Linked DNA regions of Homo sapiens. The protein of the gene in region 1 interacts with the protein of each later gene in a biochemical or structural test. Each region holds a gene or a part of one and is shown in the gene's direction. Other genes may lie near its edges.

Region 1 (6,309 bases):
CAGCGCACGGCCACTGTGGTCATGATGACACGGCTGGAGGAGAAGTCCCGGGTGAGGCTGCAGGGCCCTGCCAGGAGGCGGGTGGGAAATGCCCAGCCACAAGGTGATACAGGGCACCTTCTTCTGTGCCGCTTTCTTCTGTGGAGGAAGTCGCTCAAGTGATCCCCAGATGCTATTGTTACTGGGGGTATTATGCTCCCCAAATACTGGGTGTTTCTGGGATACAGCATGTTCCCCACATGCTAGTGGGTTCCTTAAGATGTTAATATGTTTCACCAAATGCTGTCATTTTCGGAGAATGTTAATGTGTTCCCCAGTTGCTGGCGTGTTCCCGGGGTATTCATGTGTTCCCCAGATGCTGGAGTGTTCCTGGGGCATTAACACATCTCCTAAGTTAATTAGTGGAAAGAGCTGCTGTTATCTGTTTTTGGACTGCAAAGCATTGACTGGAACGTAAAATTTACAGAGCTTGAAAATGGCACATAAACGTTATGGGTAAATTTGGCAGAAAATGTGCCTGGTGCGATCTGGCGTTGAATAAATAATTTTCAATTATGACCCTTATTCCACTAGCTAGGGCAGGGCGGTGACATAGCTTGAGGACCTGATGTGGCTTGTGGAGGACAGGGGGCAATGGATCTGAGAGCTCAGGGCTGGGGGGCTTTGTAGCCAGAAAGGCTACAGCCAGGGAGTTGACCAGCCTCCACCCTGCTTCTGCCCGTCTGAGCCTGTGGGCTTCCTTCAGCCTGCCCTGCTCATCCTCCTGCAGGTAAAATGTGATCAGTACTGGCCAGCCCGTGGCACCGAGACCTGTGGCCTTATTCAGGTGACCCTGTTGGACACAGTGGAGCTGGCCACATACACTGTGCGCACCTTCGCACTCCACAAGGTATAGCCTTTCCCCAGTGCATATCTCTTACCCAGACACTGTAAGGACAGTGGCCTGGGTGTGGTGTGCTGGGTCGGGGGGAAGCTGGAGCCTGGGTGTTGGAGGGTCGGAGGCTCAGGTGTGTGAGTGATGTGATGATCCATGTTATGGGAACAGTGCTAGGAGCTTCAGGCTACTCTGTGTGGCTTCTGAGTCCCATGGGGAAGTGGCGGGTATGGCCTCAGCATCAGGTCATTCAGTCCTGAGTCTATGGCAGGTAGGCTCCTAGTCGCCAGTATGTCCCCACTTTGTCCCCCAGAGTGGCTCCAGTGAGAAGCGCGAGCTGCGTCAGTTTCAGTTCATGGCCTGGCCAGACCATGGAGTTCCTGAGTACCCAACTCCCATCCTGGCCTTCCTACGACGGGTCAAGGCCTGCAACCCCCTAGACGCAGGGCCCATGGTGGTGCACTGCAGGTGAGAGGGTACAGTGCCACCCAGAGGGGTGGGTGGGGTGGGAGGTGGGGGCGCCTGTGCCTCAAGCTGAGCCCGTGTCCTGCAGCGCGGGCGTGGGCCGCACCGGCTGCTTCATCGTGATTGATGCCATGTTGGAGCGGATGAAGCACGAGAAGACGGTGGACATCTATGGCCACGTGACCTGCATGCGATCACAGAGGAACTACATGGTGCAGACGGAGGACCAGTACGTGTTCATCCATGAGGCGCTGCTGGAGGCTGCCACGTGCGGCCACACAGAGGTGCCTGCCCGCAACCTGTATGCCCACATCCAGAAGCTGGGCCAAGTGCCTCCAGGGGAGAGTGTGACCGCCATGGAGCTCGAGTTCAAGGTGGGGCTCGGGTGGGCCTGCTTGGCTCCAGGGCCTAGACTGGGTCATGCAGATGACCCCCACCCCCACAGGAAGCCTGGCCTGACCAATCCCTGCCTCTCAATAGTTGCTGGCCAGCTCCAAGGCCCACACGTCCCGCTTCATCAGCGCCAACCTGCCCTGCAACAAGTTCAAGAACCGGCTGGTGAACATCATGCCCTACGAATTGACCCGTGTGTGTCTGCAGCCCATCCGTGGTGTGGAGGGCTCTGACTACATCAATGCCAGCTTCCTGGATGGTTATAGGTCAGCATGCATGTCACTGCCCCACCATGCCCTACAGGGGCCTAGGCCTGTGCCTGGCTGGTGGGGGTGGGCAGCAGAGTAGGGCCAGCCTAGAAGACCAGAGAGGGCTGGGTAGAGCAGTGAGGACTTCCTGGAGGAGGGGTGATCTGAGCAGGGCCCCAAGGGGCTAGGCAGCCTAAGGGGAGACTCTAGGGGCAGCAGCACCTCCAGCATGTCCAGTCTTATGTCCACCCCAGACAGCAGAAGGCCTACATAGCTACACAGGGGCCTCTGGCAGAGAGCACCGAGGACTTCTGGCGCATGCTATGGGAGCACAATTCCACCATCATCGTCATGCTGACCAAGCTTCGGGAGATGGGCAGGGTGAGCCCACCCTTTCCCCCAGGGCCCCTGTCATACCTGGGAGAACACCAGCCACCCTTGGGGGAGCTGCCGCCTATGTTACTGTCTCCTTTGACACCCCAGCTGCTTGTCAGCATGGCCTCAGGCGCCCGTTATTACTACCTGAGGCATCTGTCCCAGAATCCTGTGAAGCCTGGCACCCCTCCCCTATTCCTTCTCACCTGATTATGGGGGCCCGACCCTCTGTCCACAGGAGAAATGCCACCAGTACTGGCCAGCAGAGCGCTCTGCTCGCTACCAGTACTTTGTTGTTGACCCGATGGCTGAGTACAACATGCCCCAGTATATCCTGCGTGAGTTCAAGGTCACGGATGCCCGGGTGAGTGAGTGCATTGAGTGTGTCCATAACGCTGCCTGTCCACACGCTGGGTGGATGGCTGCCTGCATGGTACCTTAGCTCAAGCTTCAGAAATCTGAGGCGGTGGGTGGGTATTAGGGTGTGAGCACATCTCCCCCTGTGGCCTCGGGTGCAGTGACACAGATGCATGCCTGTATCATGGTACTACCCTGGTCTAGTCCAGAGGGGTGGCTGCCTAAGGCACGAATTCTAATCATGTACCCCACCCACCTTTCCCAGGATGGGCAGTCAAGGACAATCCGGCAGTTCCAGTTCACAGACTGGCCAGAGCAGGGCGTGCCCAAGACAGGCGAGGGATTCATTGACTTCATCGGGCAGGTGCATAAGACCAAGGAGCAGTTTGGACAGGATGGGCCTATCACGGTGCACTGCAGGTGGGACTGGCCCCCTGGAGGGCTGGGGTGGGTGGGCCTGAAGGCCTGGCAGACCCACTGCATGAGGCAAGCAGGACTCCTGACCCAACTGTGTTTCTGAGCAGTGCTGGCGTGGGCCGCACCGGGGTGTTCATCACTCTGAGCATCGTCCTGGAGCGCATGCGCTACGAGGGCGTGGTCGACATGTTTCAGACCGTGAAGACCCTGCGTACACAGCGTCCTGCCATGGTGCAGACAGAGGTAACGCAGACCAGGCTGCAGGGCCAGGGCCTTGGCAGCAGCGCTGCTGGGAACCCTAGGCTTTAGCAACAGTTTGATGCCCACAGGCATGTGCATTCATTCATGCTGCCAACCTTTCACGTGGCCTGCGATAGGCATGGTGGTGTGTGCTTATGGTCCTACCTACTTGGGAGGTTGATGTGGGAGAATCACTTGAGGTCAGAAGTTCGAGGCTGCAGTGAGCTATGATTATACCACGGCACTCCAGCCTGGGTGGCAGAGCAAGACCCTGTTGCTGAAAACAAAACAAAACAAAACAAAAATGCTGCAACATTGCCTGTGCTGCCTGGGGGCTCAGGGGATTGATGAGTAAGATGTGTTCTTTCATTCGGCAGCTCTCTGCTGAGCCCCAGTGGTGTGCCTGGCTCTGGGCAAGGTTGCACAGAGCAATCCTTATGGGGTGCCCAGTCAGGAGCAGAGAAACATGATTGGGATGGCAGATGGAAGGCAGGTAGATGTGGGGGCCTGAGAGAATGACAGGAGAGAGATGAGCCTTCAGAGGCTCTTTCAGGCTCCCCCGCACACTGCCTGATGTAGCTGCCAGGGTCCAGCACCTGCTCTTGGCCAGCAGAGGCTAACTCCATGGCTGCAGTGTGAGTGTCAGCTGTGTAGTGGGGGTGTCCACTGGCGCGACCCACACTGACCAGCCCCCTATCCTGGCAGGACCAGTATCAGCTGTGCTACCGTGCGGCCCTGGAGTACCTCGGCAGCTTTGACCACTATGCAACGTAACTACCGCTCCCCTCTCCTCCGCCACCCCCGCCGTGGGGCTCCGGAGGGGACCCAGCTCCTCTGAGCCATACCGACCATCGTCCAGCCCTCCTACGCAGATGCTGTCACTGGCAGAGCACAGCCCACGGGGATCACAGCGTTTCAGGAACGTTGCCACACCAATCAGAGAGCCTAGAACATCCCTGGGCAAGTGGATGGCCCAGCAGGCAGGCACTGTGGCCCTTCTGTCCACCAGACCCACCTGGAGCCCGCTTCAAGCTCTCTGTTGCGCTCCCGCATTTCTCATGCTTCTTCTCATGGGGTGGGGTTGGGGCAAAGCCTCCTTTTTAATACATTAAGTGGGGTAGACTGAGGGATTTTAGCCTCTTCCCTCTGATTTTTCCTTTCGCGAATCCGTATCTGCAGAATGGGCCACTGTAGGGGTTGGGGTTTATTTTGTTTTGTTTTTTTTTTTCTTGAGTTCACTTTGGATCCTTATTTTGTATGACTTCTGCTGAAGGACAGAACATTGCCTTCCTCGTGCAGAGCTGGGGCTGCCAGCCTGAGCGGAGGCTCGGCCGTGGGCCGGGAGGCAGTGCTGATCCGGCTGCTCCTCCAGCCCTTCAGACGAGATCCTGTTTCAGCTAAATGCAGGGAAACTCAATGTTTTTTTAAGTTTTGTTTTCCCTTTAAAGCCTTTTTTTAGGCCACATTGACAGTGGTGGGCGGGGAGAAGATAGGGAACACTCATCCCTGGTCGTCTATCCCAGTGTGTGTTTAACATTCACAGCCCAGAACCACAGATGTGTCTGGGAGAGCCTGGCAAGGCATTCCTCATCACCATCGTGTTTGCAAAGGTTAAAACAAAAACAAAAAACCACAAAAATAAAAAACAAAAAAAACAAAAAACCCAAGAAAAAAAAAAAGAGTCAGCCCTTGGCTTCTGCTTCAAACCCTCAAGAGGGGAAGCAACTCCGTGTGCCTGGGGTTCCCGAGGGAGCTGCTGGCTGACCTGGGCCCACAGAGCCTGGCTTTGGTCCCCAGCATTGCAGTATGGTGTGGTGTTTGTAGGCTGTGGGGTCTGGCTGTGTGGCCAAGGTGAATAGCACAGGTTAGGGTGTGTGCCACACCCCATGCACCTCAGGGCCAAGCGGGGGCGTGGCTGGCCTTTCAGGTCCAGGCCAGTGGGCCTGGTAGCACATGTCTGTCCTCAGAGCAGGGGCCAGATGATTTTCCTCCCTGGTTTGCAGCTGTTTTCAAAGCCCCCGATAATCGCTCTTTTCCACTCCAAGATGCCCTCATAAACCAATGTGGCAAGACTACTGGACTTCTATCAATGGTACTCTAATCAGTCCTTATTATCCCAGCTTGCTGAGGGGCAGGGAGAGCGCCTCTTCCTCTGGGCAGCGCTATCTAGATAGGTAAGTGGGGGCGGGGAAGGGTGCATAGCTGTTTTAGCTGAGGGACGTGGTGCCGACGTCCCCAAACCTAGCTAGGCTAAGTCAAGATCAACATTCCAGGGTTGGTAATGTTGGATGATGAAACATTCATTTTTACCTTGTGGATGCTAGTGCTGTAGAGTTCACTGTTGTACACAGTCTGTTTTCTATTTGTTAAGAAAAACTACAGCATCATTGCATAATTCTTGATGGTAATAAATTTGAATAATCAGATTTCTTACAAACCAGGACTCTGTCTCAGCTGTTTCTGGAACCAAAGAGTCTGGGCCAAATCAGTAGCTAGGATGGGTTCTGGAGATTCCCTGCTCCTGAGGAGACGGGGAGGGTACCCTAAGTATTTGTGCCAGTGTAGGCTCCTGGCATGGCTACCCACTTTCAGAAAGGAGTGGTTATAAACCCTGAAAACCAGGCCACCAAGAGCCAGCCAGGCCAGAGCCACCAGTGCATGTGAAGAGCACCCTAGGCCGGGGAGCATACCCTTTGCCTCTCTTTCCCTTTAAGATTCTGTGGGTTGCACTATCGGGGCATTGGGACTGCCCCTCTCCCACTACCTTGGAGGAGAGGGATGGCCCTGTGGCAGTAGAGACTGAATGTATGGAAATTGGTTAGTGAGATCTCCTGTAATTATTGCAATGTGGATAATGGACACAAAAAACAGTGTGTCCATCTGGCCCCTGGACACACAGCTGCATCACCCACTGAGCTGTGCAGCTGCTCCACTGGTGAG
Region 2 (7,025 bases), on another chromosome or scaffold:
CTCCCCAGTGTCTGCCCAGCCCACTGCCTGCACTCAGTCCCTGTCCCCATGGCCCCCAGGTGATCTGGAGTACCAGATGTCCACAACAGCCAGGGCCAAACGGGTGCGGGAGGCCATGTGCCCTGGTGTGTCAGGCGAGGACAGCTCGCTTCTGCTGGCCACCCAGGTGGAGGGGCAGGCCACCAACCTGCAGCGACTGGCCGAGCCGTCCCAGCTGCTCAAGTCGGCCATTGTGCATCTCATCAACTACCAGGACGATGCCGAGCTGGCCACTCGCGCCCTGCCCGAGCTCACCAAACTGCTCAACGACGAGGACCCGGTCTGTGAGGGTCCCTGCTAGGGTGGGGGCTGGGCAGGGAGGGGAGAGAGCAGATGTCCTCAGGGGAGGGACATTGTAGGGGTGGAGGGAGGTTATGACCCAGACTCTCCCGTGTGTGATGAGTCTGACTGGGGCCCTCCTCAGCTCTGTGGAAGGGTATCCCGGCCTCTCCTTAGTGCTCACGTCCCCGCCCCTGCCTTTGCCCTCCAGGTGGTGGTGACCAAGGCGGCCATGATTGTGAACCAGCTGTCGAAGAAGGAGGCGTCGCGGCGGGCCCTGATGGGCTCGCCCCAGCTGGTGGCCGCTGTCGTGCGTACCATGCAGAATACCAGCGACCTGGACACAGCCCGCTGCACCACCAGCATCCTGCACAACCTCTCCCACCACCGGGAGGGGCTGCTCGCCATCTTCAAGTCGGGTGGCATCCCTGCTCTGGTCCGCATGCTCAGGTACCCAACCCTGCTCACTGCATGAGCCCAGGACCCCCTCTCACTTGGGCCTCTCCCCTCCCTTCCCTGAGCTTCCATAAATATCCAGTGAGCACCTACTATGTGCCAGGCAGAAGCACACCCCATCCGGGTGCTCGGTGGCTCACAGCCCAGCAGGGAACACAGGCATGTAAACAGCAGGTTAATGATCAGGATACGACACAGGCTATGGCAGAAGAGCATTGAGATTGCTCAAAGGTGGAATCGCTTAATGGCAGGGGATTGACAGATGAGTGGAGTTTGGCTAGTGCAGAGGAAGGGAAGAGTGTCCCAGGCAGAGGGAACAGCAAATGCAAAGTCCCTTGCAAACTTTCTGTTTCCTGGCCCCCTACAAAATGTGGATTGGCCTCATTTCTTTTTTTTTTTTTGAGATGAGGCCTTGCTCTGTCACCCAAGCTGGAGTGCAGTGGCGTGATCTCAGCTCACTGCAGCCTCCACCTCCTGGGTTCGAATGATTCTCCTGCCTCAGTCTCCTGAGTAGCTGGGATTACAAGCATCTGCCACCATACCTAGCTATTTTTTTTTGTTTTGAGATGGAGTTTTCCTCCTGTTGCCCAGGCTGGAGTGCAATGGCACAGTCTCGGCTTACTGCAACCTCTGCCTCCCGGGTTCAAGAGATTCTCCTGCCTCAGCCTCCCAAGTAGCAGGGATTACAGGCACCCACGACCATGCCTGGCTAATTTTTGTATTTTTAGTAAAAATGGGGTTTCACCATGTTGGCCAGGCTAGTCTTGAACTCCTGACCTCAGGTGATCTGCCCCCCTTGGCCTCCCAAAGTGCTGGGATTATAGGCGTCTGCCACCATGCCCAGCTCAATTTTGTATTTTTAGTAGAGACGGGGTTTCACCACGTTGGCCAGGCTGGTTTCGAACTCCTAACCTCAGGGTGATCCACCTGCCTCAGCCTCCCCAAGCGCTGAGTTTACAGACGTGAGCCACTGCTCCTGGCCTTATTTCTCATTCCCATACCAGGCTGGAAGCTCCCTGAAGGGGAGACACTGATTTCACTCCCCTCTGAACGCCTTGCAAGGCCTCTCTAATATGTGGCCTTCCACATGGTGGTTACTTAGTAGGGATCAGTGTCTAGGGGACCTACTGTGCGCTCAGCACAGGGCTGGGGACTCAGAAGCAGGAGGAGTCATTGTCCCAGTTGGGAGAAGAGAGGTGCTGTTTGCTTCATGCTTAAGAGCAGGGCAGGCTCAAGGAGTGATGAGATTTTAGCAAAGGGATATTTCCAGAGGGGCGTCAGTAGCGGGGAGGCTTCCTGGGGGAGGTGGGAACCCATGCCAGGCTCACATGTATGCCAGGCCTCTGGGACCTCAGCGTACTAACCCCTGCCCACCCCCCCAGCTCCCCTGTGGAGTCGGTCCTGTTCTATGCCATCACCACGCTGCACAACCTGCTCCTGTACCAGGAGGGCGCCAAGATGGCCGTGCGCCTGGCCGACGGGCTGCAAAAGATGGTGCCCCTGCTCAACAAGAACAACCCCAAGTTCCTGGCCATCACCACCGACTGCCTGCAGCTCCTGGCCTACGGCAACCAGGAGAGCAAGGTGGGCCCTCCCCAACTCTCCCGAGGCCTGAAGCCCACCCTTGCGCCATCTTCTATCCTGCACAGCCTTGGGCCGCTGCCCCCTTACTCCTTTTAGATGAGATATAGGTGCAGATATACATGCTTCATCATGCGACTGAATTGCCCAGAATTATTATTTTGAGGATAAGGGAAAAAAAAAATCACTCATCCTCATATAGCCACTATTGTCATTTCGATGTGCTTCCTTAAGAGCTGTTCTGTGGGCAGATTACAGATGTGTACACATCCTTGTCATCATAACAATCTGCAATATTGCATCTGTTTTCTGCCTGATTTTTTTTTTTTTTTTTTGAGACAGGGTCTCACTCTGTCACACAGGCTAGAGTGCAGTGGTGTAATCAGGGCTCACTGCAGCCTTGACTTCCTGGGCTCAGATGATCCTCCTACCTCAGCCTCCAGAGTAGCTGGGACTTCAGGCGTGTGCTACCACGCCCGACTAATTTTTTTTTTCCTTTTCTTTTCTTTCTTTTTTTTTTTTTGTTTGAGATGGAGTCTCACTTTGTCGCCCAGGCAGGAGTGCAATGGCACGATCTCGGCTCACTGCAACCTTCGCCTCCCGGGTTCAAGCGATTCTCCTGCTTCAGCCTCCCAAGTAGCTAGGATTACAGGTGCCCGCCACCACACCCAGCTAATTTTTGTATTTTTAGTAGAGACAAGGTTTCACCACATTGGCCAGGCTGGTCTCGAACTCTTGACCTTAGGTTGTCCATCTGCCTCGGCCTCATAAAATGCTGGGATTACAGGCATGAGACACCGTGCCCCACCCCCAACTAATTTTTTATAGAGATGGGATTTCTCCATGTTGCCCAGGCTGGTCTCAAACTCCTGGGCTCAAGTGATCTGCCTGCCTTGGCCTCCCAAAGTATCAGGATTACAGGTGTGAGCCACTGTGCCTGGCCTGTATGATGTTTAAAAAAAATTTTTTTTTGCTATATTGTCCTCAAAACCACCCTCTAATAATGACAGATTGCCTTTCCTTTCCCCTTTCCCCCTCCCCTTTCCTTTTTCCTTTTCCTTTTCCTTTTCCTTTCCCTCTCTTCCTCTCTTTCTTCCTTCCTTCCCATTCTTTCCTTTTCTTTCTTTTTTGAGACAGGGTCTCACTGTGTTACCCAGGCTAGAGTGCAGTGGCATGATCCTAGCTCACTGCATCCTCAAACTCCTGAGCTCAAGCATTCCTCCCATCTTAGTCTTCCTGATAGCTAGGACTATGAGAACATACTACTGAGCTAATTAGCACCCGGGCTAAGTTTTAAATTTTTTGTGGGGATGGTGTCTTGCTCTGTTGCCCAGGCTACCCTCAAGGAATCCTCCTGCTTCAGCCTCCGAAATGCTGGGATTAAAGTCATGGGCCACCATACCCAGCCTACAGATAGCATTTCATTAAGTGGAGACCTCAGGCTTTATTCTGAGGGAGGGTATTTAGATTGCTCCTATTCCACCTTTATAAACAATGCTGTAATGAATGTCTAGCCTTTGTCAAAGAGCGGAAAAAATTCTCATCAATTTTTAACACTTCTAGGCTTTTCCCCAAATGGCCAGATTGATTTCCAGAAGGACTGGACTAATTTCCAGTGCCATAACTGGTAATGGGTGTGCATATAGTTTTGTCATGTCCTTGTCAGCACTGGGTATTATCCTTTTTTCAAAATTTTGGCTTACATAACAGTCATGAAACTATTGGGGTGGGCTGGGTGTGGTGGTTCACGCCTGTAATCCCAGCACTTTGGGAGGCAGAGGCGGGTGAATTGCCTGAGGTCAGGAGTTTGAAACCAGCCTGGCCAACATAGTGAAACCCTGTCTCTACCAAAAACTACAGAAATTAGCCGGGCGTGATGGCACACGCCTGTAATCCCAGCTACTTGGGAGGCTGAGGCATGAGAATTGCTTGAACCCGGGAGGCGGAGGTTGTAGTGACCTGAGATCGTGCCACTGCACTCCAGCCTGGGTGACAGAGCGAGACTCTATCTCAAAAAAAAAAACAAAAAAACTTATTGGGGTGCTTGGCTGGGTGTGGTGGCTCACATCTGTAATCCCAGCACTTTGGGAGGCTGAGGTGTGAGGATCACTTGAGGCCAGGAGTTCTAGACCAGCCTGGGCAGCATAGTGAGACCCCCATCTTTATAAAAAGAAAAAAATACATTAAAAGAAAAAAACGAACTATTCGTGCTTTAGCTGAAGCTCAGTAATGACAGTTCTGTCTCCTGTCCCGCGCTTCCTTGTTCCTGTCATATTCCCCGTCCATCTCACACTCATTCCCTCTTTACCCATAGCTGATCATCCTGGCCAATGGTGGGCCCCAGGCCCTCGTGCAGATCATGCGTAACTACAGTTATGAAAAGCTGCTCTGGACCACCAGTCGTGTGCTCAAGGTGCTATCCGTGTGTCCCAGCAATAAGCCTGCCATTGTGGAGGCTGGTGAGTATGATGGCCTTGAGGGCGGCTGGGGTGGGAGCTCTGCCCAGCTGCCAGGCTCAGTCAGCCATGCTCCCCGTGGCTGATGGCACCCCTATCCCTGCCCCAGGTGGGATGCAGGCCCTGGGCAAGCACCTGACCAGCAACAGCCCCCGCCTGGTGCAGAACTGCCTGTGGACCCTGCGCAACCTCTCAGATGTGGCCACCAAGCAGGTGAGGGAGGTATCTGGGCCTGGGGTTGACCTCTTCAGCTGCCCCATCCAGCCTCCTGTCTGGGCATCTGACCTGAGGTACTGTGGGAGGACTGGGGGCTCTAAATCTCTCTTCCTTGTGACTGAGGCTGGAAATGCCTTGAAAACCCTCATCTCTTTTTTTTTTTTTTTTTTTTTTTCTGACGGAGTCTCACTCTGTCACCTAGGCTGGAGTGCAGTGGTGCAATCTCGGCTCACTGCAAGCTCCGCCTCCTGGGCTCAAGTGATTCTCCTGCCTCAGCCTCCCGAGTAGTTGGGACTACAGGCACCTGCCATCATGTCTGGCTAATTTTTGTATTTTTATTAGAGACAGGGTTTCACCATGTTGGGCAGGCTGGTCTTGAACTCCTGACCTCAGGTGATCCACCCGCCTTGGCCTCCCAAAGTGCTGGGATTACAGGCGTGAGCCACCACATCCAGCAAAAGAACAGTTTTGACCTGGGCCCTGGGCTGGAGCAATAGTGTACCAAGAGACAGGCCCCCATGACTAAAAATACAATTTAAGGAAAAATGCAGCTCCAGGGCAAGTGCCCTGTGCCTCCTTCCAACAACCATTCCCCAGGCCTCCCCTAGCAATATGCTGTTTATCAAGTGCTCACCCTGTGCTGGCCCTCTGCGTGGCATTTGTGGACAGTAGCTCATTCAACCTGGGGTTAGAGTGTGGGACCCTGTGGGTTAGATGAAGACACTGAGGCTCGGGGAGCTAATGGCCATGGTCACAGGTAGTAAATGGCAGAACTGGGATTTGAACCCAGGACTGTCCGTCCCCAAAGCTGGGGTTTTTCTGTTCCACCACAAGGCCCACGTGTCTCCCTGGGAGAAGTGAGATAGACGTCTGAGGTAGTGATTTTACTGGAAATGGATTTGGCTCAGGGCCCCAGGGTGGTGGGGCAGCAGTGAAGGCCCAGAAAGGTGACAAGCGAGTAGACATGGCTCAGCTGGGCCACTGAATCATGCGGCCCCCTCAACAATTGCCTCCTGGTCTCGAGGCCTCCCTTGGCCACCGTACTTTGGCCTGAGGAGGGTTCTGCCTGGGTCTGAGGGCCCCAGGGAAAGGCTGATGAGTTGGAGGGAAGAGATGTGGGGCTTAGAGCCAAGCCTGGGTTCAGATCCAGCCACTAGCTGTGTGTCTGTGGGCAAGTTCCCCAACCTCTCTGAGCCTCATTGCCTCACTTGCACCACAGGATAGTAACGCCCTCTCACAGGGTGTGGCGGGTCATAGGGATGAAAGTTCCCGGGCACACACAGGCAGGGCTGACCCCTTTAGGTCATCCCACTCCCCTTGGACATATTCGAGAAGGCTCCCTGGAGTTGGCTGCTCCCTGACTCCCCCGTCCCTTCCTTGCCCTCCAGGAGGGCCTGGAGAGTGTGCTGAAGATTCTGGTGAATCAGCTGAGTGTGGATGACGTCAACGTCCTCACCTGTGCCACGGGCACACTCTCCAACCTGACATGCAACAACAGCAAGAACAAGACGCTGGTGACACAGAACAGCGGTGTGGAGGCTCTCATCCATGCCATCCTGCGTGCTGGTGACAAGGACGACATCACGGAGCCTGCCGTCTGCGCTCTGCGCCACCTCACTAGCCGCCACCCTGAGGCCGAGATGGCCCAGAACTCTGTGCGTCTCAACTATGGCATCCCAGCCATCGTGAAGCTGCTCAACCAGCCCAACCAGTGGCCACTGGTCAAGGTACTGCTGTTAGGCGAGGGGAAGGAGCTCCCTGCAGCAGGCTTAGGTGCTGTATTGGTATAGGCAAAGCCGCTGTAGCAAAGAAGCCCTAAATACAGTGGCTCGAATAAGACAGAAGTTTATTTCTCTCTCGTGTAATAGTTTAGACCTCAACAATGGCTCTGCTCTAAAATTCCAGAATTGGGATTTCTATCTTGTAGCTCTACCAGCCCCTAGGGCAGAGCTCAGAGTTCAAAATGCACATGAGTACCCTGGGTGGTTTCATTAAATT
Region 3 (7,025 bases), on another chromosome or scaffold:
GAGACCAGCCTGGGCAACATGGCGAAACCCCATCTCTACAAAAAATTCAAAAATTGAGACAGAGCGAGACTCCGGCTCAAAAATAAAATAAAATAAAATAATAAACAAAATGTGGAATGAGCCAGGCATAGAAGGCCAGCTGTTGTATGATTTTTTTTTTTCATGAAGCATTCAGAGTAGGCAAATTTAGAGACAGGAAGTAGATTAGTGTTTGCCAGGGGCTGGGGTCGGGAGAAGGGGGAGTCACTAGTGCTCAATGAGTACAGAATTTTGGTGTGTTGTGATGAAAAAGTTCTGGAAATAGGCTGTGCGGGGTGGCTCAGGCCTGTAATCCCAACACTTTGGGAGGCTGAGGTGGATGGATCACAAGGTCAGGAGTTCAAGACCAGCCTGACCAATATGGTAAAACCCTGTGTCTACTAAAAATACAAAAATTAGCCAGGCGTGGTGGCGTGCACGTGTAATCCCAGCTACTCAGGAGGTTGGGGCAGGAGAATCGCTTGAACCTGGGAGGCGGAGGTTGCAGTGAGCCAAGATCATGCCACTGCACTCCAGCCTGGGCGACAGAGAGAGACTCCATCTCAAAAAAAAAAAAAAAAAAAGAAAAAGAAAAAGTTCTGGAAATAACAATGATGGTTATGCAACATTGTGAATGTAATTAGTGCATTAAACTGCACACCGCCTCTTGAACCCGGGAGGCGGAGGTTGCAGCGAGCCAAGGTAGCACCACTGCAATCCAGCCTGGATAATAGAGACTCTGTCTCAACAAAATAAAAATAACAATAAACTGCACACGTAAAAATGGTTAAAATTGGCCAGGTGCGGTGGCTCACGCCTGTAATCCCAGCACTTTGGGAGGCCAAGGTGGGTGGATCGCGAGGTCAGGAGTTCAAGACCAGCCTGGCCAACATGGTGAAACCCCATCTCTACTGAAAATACAAAAATTAGCTGGGCATGGTGGCGCATGCCTGTAATCCCAGCTACTCAGGAGGCTGGGGCAGGAGAATTGCTTGAACCGGGACCTGGGAGGCGGAGGTAGCAGTGAGCGAGATCGCACCACTACACTCCAGCCTGGGCTCTGTCTCAAACAAAACAAAACAAAACAAAACAAAAATGGTTAAAATTAGGAATTATGTGCTATATATATTTTGCGCTATATATATTTTGCCACAATTTTTAAAAATTCACTTCCTTTTCTCTGATGCAAGATCTGGTCCCTCTCTACTCTCTGAGCACACCCCAGCCCCATCACGCAGCTCCAGCCCCACTGGGCTTTGTCTGTTCCTCAAGCAGAACAAGTTCAGTCCTGCCTCTGAGCCTTCACACTGGTGGTTCCCTTTGCTAGGAATGCTGTTCCCTGTCTGAACCCTTACTATCTTTTTTTTTTTTTTTTTGAGATAGAATCTCACTCCATCACCCGGGCTGGAGTTCAGTGATGCAACCCAGCTCACTGCAACCTCTGCCTCCCAGGCTCAAGGGATTCTCCTGCTTCAGCATCCCGAGTATCTTGGGACTACAGGCGCGCACCATCATGCCCGGCTAATTTTTGTATTTTTATGAGAGACAGGGTTTCACCTTGTTGTCCAAGGTGGTCCCAAACTCCTGACCTCAAGTGATCTGACCCCCTTGGCCTCTCAAAGTGCTGGGATTACAGGCATGAGCCACTGAGCCCGGCCTTGAATCCTTACTATCTTTGATTCTTTAACTCTCACATTGCCTCCTCAGGGAAGTCCTCCTGGACTTCGGGCTGAGATCACCATTTGTCCCACCATGTATCTTTTTTCTTTTTCTTTTCCTTTTTTTTTTTTTTTTTGAGGCAGAGTCTCGGTCTTGTCACCCAGGCTGGAGTACAATAGCGCAATCTCGGCTCACTGCAACCTCTGCCTCCCGGGTTCAAACAATTCTCCTGCTGGGATTACAGGCTCCCACTACCATGCCTGGCTAATTTTTTGTATTTTTAGTGGTGATGGGGTTTCACCATATTGACCAGGCTGGTCTTGAACTCCTGACCTCAGGTGATCCGCCCACCTCGGCCTCCCAGAGTGCTGGGATTACAGGCATGAGCCACCAGGCCTGGCCTTGTCCCACCACTTATCTAACACTGATTCATGTTGAAAATGAACTGGGTGCGGCCGGGCACCCAGGGAGGCAGGAGGACCAGGGAGGAGAATGCTGCAGCCTCCAAACCAGAGGAATGGTGTATTGGATTACAGTGGTGGCCCCCGTCAGGATGGGCAGGACAGTGGCCATTGTAGAGATGGGAACACTGAATCCCTGTGAGTTTGAGGGGTCTGGCCAGGGGAGTCCCACAGCAGGAATTGCCAGAACCTGGGCTGGAACAGAGGTCCCCTGAACAACTCCCTGCCCCCTATTCCTGCAGCAATTTGAGAACTGGCGAGAGAACCAGCCGGACAATTTCTTCGCGGGTGGCGAGGACTGTGTGGTGATGGTGGCGCATGAAAGCGGGCGCTGGAACGATGTCCCCTGCAACTACAACCTACCCTATGTCTGCAAGAAGGGCACAGGTATGCTGTGCCCCCTGCTTCTTTTCCTCTCTGTCACTTTTGCTCACTGGTTCTCTGTTGCCCAGGCTGGAGTGCAGTGGCATAATCATGGCTCATCACAGCCTCCACCGCCTGGGTTCAAGCCATCCTCCTGCCTCAGCTTCCCGAGTAGGTGGGACTATAGGCATGCACCAACATGCCCAGCTAATTTTTGTATTTTTTGTAGAGATGGGGTCTTGCCATGTTGCCCAGGCTGGTCCCGAACTCCTGGGCTCAAGCGATCTGCCTGTCTCAGCCTCTCGAAGTGCTGGGATTATATGCATAAGCCATTGTGCCCAGCCTTGATTCATTTTTTTTTTTCATGAAGCATTCAGAGTACACAAATTTAGAGACAAGAAGTAGATTAGTATTTGCCAGGGGCTAGGGTTTGGGAGAAGGGGGAGTCACTAGTGCTTAATGGGTATAGAATTTTGGTGTGTTGTGATGAAAAAGTTCTGGAAATAGGCCGCTCGGGGTGGCTCATGCCTGTAATCCCAACACTTTGGGAGGCCAAGGTGGGTGGGATTATATTTTATTTTTTTAATTTATTCTTATTTTGTTTTTACTTATTTATGTTTTTGGAGACAGTTTCGCTCTTGTTGTCCAGGCTGGAGTGCAAAGGCATGCTCTTGGCTCACTTCAACCTCTGCCTCCCATGTTCAAGTGATTCTCCTGCCTCAGCCTCCTGAGTAGCTGGGATTACAGGCGTATGCCACCACGCCCAGCTGGTTTTTATATTATTAGTAGAGACGGGGTTTCACCATGTTGGCCAGGCTGGTCTCGAACTCCTGACCTCAGGTGATCCACCCACCTCGGCCTCCCAAAGGGCAGGGATTACAAGCATGAGCCACTGCACCTCGCCTTCATCTTTTTAAGTTGGTAAATGTCAGTGCAGCCAGTTCTCACTTTCCACCAGCGTATGAGAGTGCTTGTTTCCTCCCACCCTTGCTAACTCTGCACATTCTTAAACTTTTGTTCTTTGTTCATCTAAGTGGGGAAAAATAGTATCTCATTGTTATCTTAGTTTGCATGCCTTTAAGGATGAGAATAACCAGTTGTTTTTTGTTTGTTTGTTTGAGATGGAGTCTCACTCTGTCATCCAAGCTGGAGTGCAGTATTGCAGTCTCGGCTCACTGCAACCTCCGCCTCTGAGGTTCAAGCGATTCTCCTGCCTCAGCCTCCCGAGTAGCTGGGATTACAGGCACACACCACACCTGGCTAATTTTTTTTTTGTTTTTGTATTTTTAGTGGAGACGGGGTTTCACCATGTTGACCAGGCTGGTCTCAAACTTCTGACCTTAAGTAGTCTGCCTGCCTCAGCCTCCCAAAGTTCTGGGGTTACAGGTGTGAGCCACCGTGTCTGGCCTAACCAACTGTTTATATGTTGACAGCCTGTTGGCATATATTTCTTTCCCTGTGAACTGTCAATTCATCTCTTTTGCCCAGTTTTCTATTGACTTGTTGATCTTACTGATTTTTAAGAGATCTTTATATATGAAAGAAATCATTTGTATACATTTGTACATCCACCTTTATTTTATACTTTGGTTTATTTTTGTTTCCATTTCTTTGTCAATTTTCACATCCTCCCCCCCATTTATTCATGTATTTATTTATTTATTTTTGAAACAGGGTCTTGCAATGTTGCCCAGGCTGGAGTACAGTGGCATTATCACGGCTCACTGCAGATCACTTGAACTCCAGGGCTCAAGTGATACTCCTACCTCAGTCTTACCAGTAGCTGGACTACGGGTGCACACCACCATGCCTGGCTTATTTATTTATTTATTTATTTTGAGACGGCGTCTTGCTCTGTCGCCCAGGCTGGAGTGCAGTGGCGCAATCTCGGCTCACTACAAGCTCCGCCTCCCGGGTTCACGCCATTCTCCTGCCTTGGCCTCCTCAGCAGCTGGGACTACAGGCGCACGCTGCCACACCCAGCTAATTTTTTGTATTTTTAGTAGAGACGATGTTTCACCGTGTTAGCCAGGATGGTCTCGATCTCCTGACCTTGTGATCCGCCTGCCTCGGCCTCCCAAAGTGCTGGAATTACAGGTGTGAGCCACCGCACCCGGCCCTTATTTTAAAATTTTTTTGTAGAGACAGGGTCTTGCTGTGTTGCCCAGGCTGGTCTCAAACTCCCGGACTGAAGCAATCCTTCCACCTCAGCCTCCCAAAGTGCTGGCATTACAGGCCTGAGCTGCCGCACCCGGCCTTTATTTGCTCAGATAATTATTATTGCCGTCTGTCTCCTTCATTCCCATTGTGCCCTATGTTTGGTGTAAGAATTAGAAAGTGAGGTGTGTCCGGGAGGTTGCTGTCCCTAAGGAGCTGCTGATTTGGGTAGAAGAGACAGACAGACACAGTCACTTCCAGCCCTGTGAGATAAGAACTGGGCAGAGGCAGGGACCTGTTGACGAGCTGAGGGGGGTGTCATTCCCAATAAAACTCAGCTTGAGCCCATGAGTTCAAAACTAGCCCGGGCAACATAGTGGGACCCTGTCTTTACAAAAAATCAAAAAATTAGCTAGGCTCGGTGGTGCGCACCTGTAGTCTCAGCTACTTGAGAGGCTGAGGTGGGAAGATCCCTTGAGCCTGGGAGGTTGAGGCTGCAGTGAGTTGTGATTGTGCCACTGCACTCCAGCCTGAGCGACAAAGGAAGACGCTCTTTTAAAAACAACAATAAGAGCCAGGCACGGTGGCTCATGCCTTTAATCCCAGCACTTTGGGAGGACAAGGTGGGCAGCTCATCTGAGGTCAGGAGTTCAAGACCCGCCTGGCCAATATGACGAAACCCGGTCTCTACTATAAATACAAAAATTAGCCAGCCATGGTGGTGCATGTCTGTAATCCCAGCTCCTCGGGAGGTTGAGGCAGGAGAATCACTTGAGTCTGGGAGGCAGGGGTTGCAGTGAGCCGAGATCACGCCACTGCACTCCAGTCTGGGAGACAGAGTGAGACCCTGTCTCAAAAAAGGAACAAAAAAATACAAAAATTAGCCAGGTGTAGATTACAGGCAGGTGCCTGTAATCCCAGCTACTTGGGAGGCTGAGGCAGGAGAATCGCTTGAACCAGAGAGGCGGAGGTTGCAGTGAGGCAAGAGCGCGCCACTGCACTCCAGTCTGGGTGACAGAGCGAAACTCTGTCTCAAACAACAACAACAACAACAACTAGTTTAGCCCCAGATGTGAGCACCTCTCTCACTAGAGATTCCTCTGTCCCAGTGCTCTGTGGTCCCCCTCCGGCAGTGGAGAATGCCTCACTCATCGGTGCCCGCAAGGCCAAGTACAATGTCCATGCCACTGTAAGGTACCAGTGCAATGAAGGATTTGCCCAGCACCATGTGGCCACCATTCGATGCCGGAGCAATGGCAAGTGGGACAGGCCCCAAATTGTCTGCACCAAACGTAAGTAGCTTCTCCCAGAGATCTCAACATAGGTTTTTGGTATTTCTAGTTTCCAAGTAAGACATCCTATTTCTCCACACATTGATCTGGCTTAATGTCTGCCTGATAATACAGCCTTGCAGATAAGTGAGAACTTACCAGCCTGTCTGATGTTTCCTTCATTTGTGTGTGTGTGTGTGTGTGTGTGTGTGTGTGTGTATGTGTATGAGAGAGAGATGGAGTTGTGCTCTGTTGCCCAGGCTGGAGTGCAGTGGCACAATCTCGGCTCACTGCAACCTCCCGGGTTCAAGCGATCCTTGTGTCTCAGCCTCCTGAGTAGCTGGGATCACAGGTGTCCACTGCCATGCCCGGCTAATTTTTGTATTTTTAGTAGAGACAGGGTTTCACTATGTTGGCCAGGCTGATCTCGAACTCCTGAGTTCATGTGATCAGCTCACCTCAGCCTCCCAAAGTGCTGGGATTACAGGCGTGAGCCACCACATCCGGCCTGGTTTTGTTTTTTTTGAAACAGAGCCTCACTCTGTTGCCCAGGCTGGAGTGCGAGGCTCAATCACAGCTCACTATAGCCTCATCCTCCCAGTCTCAAGGGATCCTCCAAACTCAGCCTCCCAAATAGCTGGGACTACAAGCATGTGCCGCCACGCCTGGCTAATTTTTTTATTTTTGTAGAGATAGGTTCTCGCTATGTTGCCCAAGCTGGTCTCAAACTCCTGGCTTCAAGAGATCCTCCCACTTTGGCCTCCCAAAGTGCTGGGATGACAGGGATGAGCCCTCGCGTCTGGCCTCTTTCCTCTACTTTCTCTCCCAAGGACACCCGCTGCATCAGGCCACCTGCCTCTCACCACCTTTTGTCCCTTCCCTGTCCTCCCTCACTTCCCTGCAGCCAGACGTTCACATCGGATGCGGCGACACCACCACCACCACCAACACCACCACCAGCATCACCACCACAAATCCCGCAAGGAGCGCAGAAAACACAAGAAACACCCAACGGAGGACTGGGAGAAGGACGAAGGGAATTTCTGCTGAAGAACCAGAAAAAAGAAAGCACAACACCTTTCCCATGCCTCCTCTG

The links. The genes of interacting proteins can lie anywhere in the genome.
Region 2: the proteins of PTPRF (region 1) and JUP form a complex in vitro, tested with the Homo sapiens proteins (one study listed by BioGRID).
Region 3: the proteins of PTPRF (region 1) and NCAN form a complex in vitro, tested with the Homo sapiens proteins (one study listed by BioGRID).

The regions. Positions count from the first base shown.
Region 1 is NC_000001.11:43,617,861-43,624,169, forward strand, and holds the end of PTPRF (receptor-type tyrosine-protein phosphatase F isoform 1 precursor), read left to right. Parts: coding exon 1-51; intron 52-769; coding exon 770-889; intron 890-1,187; coding exon 1,188-1,342; intron 1,343-1,427; coding exon 1,428-1,713; intron 1,714-1,819; coding exon 1,820-1,998; intron 1,999-2,234; coding exon 2,235-2,361; intron 2,362-2,593; coding exon 2,594-2,719; intron 2,720-2,977; coding exon 2,978-3,132; intron 3,133-3,236; coding exon 3,237-3,372; intron 3,373-4,074; coding exon 4,075-4,143; 3' UTR 4,144-5,806; downstream 5,807-6,309. UniProt on the Homo sapiens protein: Possible cell adhesion receptor. It possesses an intrinsic protein tyrosine phosphatase activity (PTPase) and dephosphorylates EPHA2 regulating its activity.
Region 2 is NC_000017.11:41,762,712-41,769,736, reverse strand, and holds part of JUP (junction plakoglobin), read left to right. Parts: intron 1-59; coding exon 60-319; intron 320-529; coding exon 530-768; intron 769-2,156; coding exon 2,157-2,358; intron 2,359-4,669; coding exon 4,670-4,814; intron 4,815-4,920; coding exon 4,921-5,024; intron 5,025-6,415; coding exon 6,416-6,754; intron 6,755-7,025. UniProt on the Homo sapiens protein: Common junctional plaque protein. The membrane-associated plaques are architectural elements in an important strategic position to influence the arrangement and function of both the cytoskeleton and the cells within the tissue.
Region 3 is NC_000019.10:19,242,933-19,249,957, forward strand, and holds part of NCAN (neurocan core protein precursor), read left to right. Parts: intron 1-2,380; coding exon 2,381-2,525; intron 2,526-5,767; coding exon 5,768-5,950; intron 5,951-6,833; coding exon 6,834-6,979; 3' UTR 6,980-7,025. UniProt on the Homo sapiens protein: May modulate neuronal adhesion and neurite growth during development by binding to neural cell adhesion molecules (NG-CAM and N-CAM). Chondroitin sulfate proteoglycan; binds to hyaluronic acid.